Homo sapiens: one gene and its partner. The protein of the gene in region 1 purifies or fractionates together with the protein of each later gene. This does not show direct contact. Each region holds a gene or a part of one and is shown on either strand. Other genes may lie near its edges.

Evidence for each region. Proteins that work in one complex are often made in the same cells at the same time.
Region 2: the proteins of BTG3 (region 1) and TMLHE purify together in Homo sapiens (affinity purification with mass spectrometry; one large-scale study listed by BioGRID and IntAct). This does not show direct contact.

Annotation. Positions count from the first base shown.
Region 1 is NC_000021.9:17,606,402-17,609,901, reverse strand, and holds part of BTG3 (protein BTG3), read left to right. Parts: intron 1-749; coding exon of another isoform or gene 750-757; coding exon 758-930; intron 931-3,500. UniProt on the Homo sapiens protein: Overexpression impairs serum-induced cell cycle progression from the G0/G1 to S phase.
Region 2 is NC_000023.11:155,602,953-155,606,452, forward strand, and holds part of TMLHE (trimethyllysine dioxygenase, mitochondrial isoform 1 precursor), read right to left. Parts: intron 1-3,500. UniProt on the Homo sapiens protein: Converts trimethyllysine (TML) into hydroxytrimethyllysine (HTML).

The sequences.
Region 1 (3,500 bases):
TATGAATACTGCTGTGGGCATTTCTGTGTTCAAGGTTCACCCATATTGTAGCTTGTATTAGTACTCATTCCTTTTCATTGCTGAATAATATTCCATACGTGTGTATAACACAGTATTTGTCCATTCTTTAGTTGGTAAACATATTGTTTTCACTTTTTAGCTATTATGAATACTGCTATGGGCATTTCTGTACAAGGTTTTGGTGTGGACATATGTTTTCATTTCTCTTGGGCAAATAGAAGTAGAATTGGCCGTGTCATATGATAACTCTGTGTTTAACCTTTCTAGGAACTGCCGAACTTTTCTGTTATAAAATAGCTCTACAGTTCTAGATTTTAAAGTAGACTTTTTTTATGTTTTAAAGTTCAAATCATTTCACAGAATTTTAAACTTAGATTATTGCAGCTAAATATTGACACACACAGTAACATCTATGTCGTATCATTTATTATAGTGCTTCTCTTTTACTGATAGGTGTGGTTTTATTTTAGCCAACAGGAGCAACGTGCTATCTTTATGGAATTTCTTCATGAAGCTAAGTGATAAGATTTTTAAGTAGTATTTTATAATAAGGCCTTTATGGCATAAAGATAAGTAGATTGTTCTCTACTTCAGATATAAGCCAAAGAAATACAAGATAAAATTGGAAGGAGGAAGGGGAGAGCTGTAAAGGAGGTATATCTTACAGAGCTTCATCTTCCCAGTTTTTATATTTTGTTTTTCTGAGAAAACATGTTTTATCTTTGCAGGGAAAAAAATGAAGAATGAAATTGCTGCCGTTGTCTTCTTTTTCACAAGGCTAGTTCGAAAACATGATAAGTTGAAAAAAGAGGCAGTTGAGAGGTTTGCTGAGAAATTGACCCTAATACTTCAAGAAAAATATAAAAATCACTGGTATCCAGAAAAACCATCGAAAGGACAGGCCTACAGGTAAAGGATTAGATTGGATTAAGCAGAGGCTGATCAACCCCTGAGGTGGGTTCAAGGCCGGATGATTGAAGGGTGTGCAGACCATGCCTACAGGTGTTTCATCTGCAAAATATAGAACTCTGGGGTGTTTGTATATTTTCTCCTTACTCATTTTAAAACAAGTATTTGTTGGCGGAGTGGTGGAGTCCCACTGCCTGGACACAGGAGGCCAATGCTATGGGGTCAAAGGAGTTAGTCTTTTGTGGTTATAGCCTGGCTCCTAACAGTGCATTTCTGTTTATCACAAATACTTAGGGATTTTCACAATTCTAGAGGACCCCTAATAACACATTAATGGGCATGGTAGGAGTTGAAAGAAGTGAATCTTGCATCTAAAAGTAAATTACATGTTATATGTTCTTTGAAAAAAAAAAAAGTATGGAAAAAGGGAACTAAGATTATCAGACACCTGATATGTCGTTAATACAAGAATAATCTCATTTATATATTTGTGGTAGAAGTCAGTGTAACTATTTTCTAGATGAATGTGACTCACCTGTGATCCACGACTAGTAAATAATGGCTCTGGGATTTGCTTTTCTGGGAGTTTTTTTTTTTTGTGGTATTGTTTTTGCTCTGTCACCCAGTCTAGAGTGCAGTGGTATAACCATAGCTCACTGCAGCCTCAAACTCCTGGGCTCAAGCAATCCTACTGCCTCAGACTCCAAAGTAGCTAGGATTATAGACATGTGCCAACACACCAGGCTAATTTAAAAACAAATTTTTTTTTGTATAGATGGGATCTTGCTGTGTTACCCAGGTGAGTTTCAAACTCCTGGCCTCACGCGATCTTCTCCCTTTGCCTCCCAGAATGTGAGGATTACAGGCGTGAGCCACCATGCCTGGCCAAGGTTCTGGGATTTGAACTCAGGTCTACATGACCCCATGTTTTCATGGGCTTTCTGCACACCACAGTGTTACCACTGTTTTGGCACTGAGAACGAAGGTAATTCTCACTTGGAGCTGTCTTTTGTACTCTGCTGTATAAGGTACATTTACAGCTTAAAGTAAAGAAGAGCAGACTCCTATAAAACATGCCCTGGCATGCTCACTGTAGTATTTATGTGACTGCTCAGGAACCTCAGTTGAGAATGTTCTGCTAAACTCAGCTGCCAAACATTGTCCCATTTTGTGGATGTGGCCACGAGAAATAAAAGTGGAACAGTGACTATAGTGATAACTACAGAAATACTCTTTTATTTGTGTATATTGATGTCCCCAAAGTTTCCTACACAAATCAACACTTTGTGCTTTGATGTCAGAAGGACTTCCTTTCTGCCACTGGGCTCTTGCAAGTACAGCACTATTCAAGGAGTCTAAAAAGGAGGTAAACATATTATTTGCTAATTTCTCATGTACTGAAAGTCAAGTGAGCTTGTGTTCTATTGACAAGAAGAGAATCAAAATAGTTTATTTTCCTTTTCATTTTTAATCCAAAGAGGTTTCCAGTAAATTGGAAAATGAATTAAAATAGAAATGTGCACGCTAACACAGGCTCAAGTCATTTTTTATCTTATCTCTTGATTATCTTAATTTTTTTTTTGCATATTTTCATTTCCAATAGAGTGAACAGCTTTCGTTAAGTTAGAACTGTTGAGGCTTTTTACTCTGATTTAACTGACATTGGATGAAGGCTTTTTGGAAGTGCCAAGCCACCATACTATTACTGAAAAAGGAGGCACTGTCAAGTAAATATTTAAAGGTCAGACAGTGTACAATTTCATTTCCATTAATTCTAAAAACTTGAGAAAAAAACTGAAACGATTAAATTGGCATGTGATCAGAAGTATCATTACTGAGTCATTTTAAAGCTGTATTTGAAGTAGAAAAAATAGTGGGTTGTTACTATTATAAAAATGAATAGAATATAAGATTAACCAAGTTAGTAGAGACTTCAGTCTGTAGAATAGGTGGAGTGTTCTTTCTCTTACAAAATGTTTGTAAGTTGAAATTGTTTTTCTGCAATATAAATAAGATACTTGTAGAGAGCAATTTGGCAATATTATCAAGATCTATAAAAATATTCATACCTTTTGAACAGTAAGTCTCCCAAGAATCTATTCTAGAAGTATAATTAGAAATGCAGACGAACATGTATGAATATGGATGTCTCTTACACTTTGTAATTGCAAAAATGGAAAGAACTAAACTGTCAACATTAAGTAAATGATAGAATATTTTTATGCAACTTTTAAAATTTTGTTTTTGAAGAGTAGTTAATGGATAAGTAGTATGTAGAGTGAAAAAAAATAGTACAAAACATGTAAGGTATGCAGATTTTGTTGAAGCATAGTCTCTGTTTAAGCATCTATATTTATATATAATTTGTAAGCTTAGAGCCTGTATCACCTTAATTGTAGATAAGAAAAACACATACATCTAAGATATATCTTTTTATCCTTAACTGCTTTTGGTCCCAGAGCACATGGGATCTTTCAAATTACCCTATACAATATTAGAATCTATAGCATAAGACCATGTTTTTAAAAGGACTAAGCAGTATTTTACATACTAGAAAATAATTTTTCTCA
Region 2 (3,500 bases), on another chromosome or scaffold:
AGTTCATGGATTGAAAAATCCAATACTGTTAGTTGGCAGTTCTCCCCAAACTGATGTATAGATTCAGTGCAATCGCTACCAAAATCAAAGCAGAGGCTGGGCATGATGGTTCATGCCTATAATCCCAGTACTTTGGGAGGCCAAGGCAGGAGGATAGCTTAAGCCCAAGAGTTTGAGACCAGCCTGGGCAAAATAGGGAGACCACATCTCTACAAAAATATTGTTAAAATAGCCAGGCATAGTGATGCACATCTGTAGTCCCAGGCACTCAGGAGACTGAGGTGGGAGGATCGTTTGAGCCTGGGAGGTTGAGGATGCAATGAGCTGCAACTGTGTCACTGCACTCCAGCCTGAGCAACAGAGCAAGACCCTGTCGAAAGAAAGAAAGAAAAGAAAGAAGAAAAGAAAAGAAAGAATGAAAGAAAGAAAGAAAGAAAGAAAGAAAGAAAGAAAGAAAGAGTGACAAGATGATCCTAATATTTATATGGAAATGGAAAGAACCCAGAATACCCAAAACAATGTTGAAAAAGAAGAACAAAATTTTAGGATTCACCTTTCTCAATTTAAATACATATTACAATGCCACAATAGTCAAGACAGTAGGGACTGGCATAAGAATAGAAATATAAACTAATGGAACACAATTGAGAGGTCGGATATAAACCCTTATATTTATGGTCAATTGGTTTTCAAAAAAGGTTCCAAGTCAATTCAACAGGAAAAGGTTAGTTTTTCAACAAATGATGATAGTACAGTTGGATATCCATATGCAAAAAGATTAATGAAGACCTTCACCTTACACCATACACAAAATAACACAGAATGAATCAGAGTCATAAACGAAAGACGTAAAAGTATAAAACTTTTAGAAACATAGGAAAACCTTCATGATATTGGATTGGGCAAAGAATTATTAGATACAACATCAAAAAACACAATTGACAAAAGAAAAAAAATAACTTGGACTTTATCAAAAATAAAGAACCGAGAGCCCCTCTGCCACTGCCATTGCAGCAGCTCTGTCCTTGCTGCCCTAAGACTGGGGAAGGAATAAAGAGCCTGAGGGATTTACTTGCACCTCCAACATGCCACAGTTGCCATACAGAATAGAGCCAAGTCTCTCATCTCTGTGAGCCTCCAACCCCCTGGTCTTCACCAAGCAGGGCCCCTGGCTTGGGCCCACAGAACAGCTGCCCTACCTCGTGGCTGAACATACCCATTGTCAGTGGCTCTGTGTTGCTCTGGGGTGGAGCTCCCAGAGGCAAATGAAATGCCCTCTGAGACTGCCACTGCAGTGGTACTGCCTTTGCTGCCCTTGGATTGGGGAAGGAACAAAGACCCTGAGTGCTGTACTCATACCTCCATCATGCCACAGCCAACCTAAGAAGAGGCTAGTCTGTCTTCCCTGTGAGCTCCCTTCTCCCCCTCCCCATTCATCACCAGGCAGGGCTCCCTGGCTCGGGCCCACAATGCAGCCACTCCACCCCAGGATGAATGCTCCAAATGATAGTAGTTCTGCATTTCTCTGGAGTGGAGACCCAAAAGACAAGTGAAAGGCCCTCTGCAATTGCCACTGCCAAGGTCCCTGCCCCTGCTGCTCCCAAGCTGGGGAGGGAACACAAAGCCTGAGCTCATCTGAAGGCTGCATGTGAAGCCCAAGAGTGTCAAGCCAAGCTCTGCAGCCAGCACTCAAGTGGGAGAGGAGCCCACACCCTCAGAGCACCAAGAGGGAGCATGGCCGCAAACACAAGGAAATAGAGGAGTCATGTGGCTGAGCAAGAGCCTACCTAATGGCCATTACACTTAAGCACCATCTACTGGATCACAGCCCAAATTTTGACACCAAAAATACTTACCTAATATATCCCTCTGTGAAACGAAGAACAAGAATTCAGCTACAAATAAAGACCCCGCACAAAGCTCCAGCACTCTGACAATGTCCAGAAATGAGGTCAACTGACTATACTCAAATCACACCACAGTTAAAGAAACATTAGCCCACACACAGGAGAAAGAACCAGCACAAGAACTCTGGCAACCCACAAAGCCAGAGTGTCTTTTTTCCTCCAAACAACACTAGTTCCCCAGCAAGGATTCTTAACCAGGCTGAAATGGCTAAAATGGCAGATATAGAATTCAGAATGTGGATAGGAATTAAGATCATTTGAGATCCATGAGAAAGTTGAAACTGAATCCAAGGAATTTAAGGATTATAATAAAACAATACAGGAGCTGAAAGATGAAATGGCCATTTTAAGAAAGAACCAAACTAATATGATAGAGCTGAAAAACATAATACTGTCCATGAAAATTTCCCAAACATCACTAGAAAGGACAACATTCAAATTCAGGAAATTCAGAGAACCTCTGCAAGAACTATACAAAAGGACCATCCCCAAGACACATAGTCATCAGATGCTCCATCAAGCTAACAGCGACCTTTCAGCAGAAATCTTGCAAGTCAAAAGAGATTGGGGGCCTAGATTCAGCATTCTTAAAGAAAAGAAACTCCAACCAAGAATTTCATATCCAGCCAAACTAAGCTTCATAAGCAAAGGAGAAATAAGATCTTTTTTTTAGACAAGCAAATGCTAAGGGAATTCATTACCATCAGGCCTGCCTTACAAGAGGTCCTTAAGGGAATGCTAAATATGGAAACAAAAGACTATTACTGGCCACCACAAAAACACACTTAAAGACATAGGCCACTGACACTATAAAGCAACCACGTGATCAAGTGTACATAATAACTAGCTAACAACATGATGCCAGGATCAAATCTGCACATATCAATATTAATCTTAAGTGTAAATGGGCTAAATGCCAAAATTAAAAGGTATCCAACGGCAAATTGGATAAAGAAGCAAGACCCGGTGGTATGCTGTCTTCAAGAGTCCCATCTCACATACATCACATACAATGACACCCATAGACTCAAAGTAAATGGATGGAGAAAAACCTACAAAGCAAACAAAGAACAAAAAAAAGCAGGGATTACTATTTTAATTTCAGACAAAATAGACATTAAACCAACAATGATGAAAAAAGGCAAAGAAGGACATTACAAATGGTAAAGAGTCAACAAGAAGACTTAACTATCCTAAATATATATGCACCCAACACAGGAGCACCCGGATTCATAAAACCAGTTTTCAGAGACCTATGAAGAAACTTAGATAACTATACAATAATAGTGGGAGATTTCAATACCCCACTGACAGTATTAGACAGATCCTCGAGGCAGAAAACTAACAAAGATATTTGGGACCTGAACTCAGCATTTGATCAAGTGGAGCTAACAGACATCTACACAACAATCCACCCAAAAACAACAGACTATACATTCTTCTCATCTGCAGATAACACATACTCTACTGACCACACAGTCAGCCATAAGACAATTCTCAGCAAATTAAAAATTTTTAAAACCAACAAAAACAAAAATCATACCAGCCACATTCTCAGACCACAGCACAATAAAAATAGAAATCTATACCAAG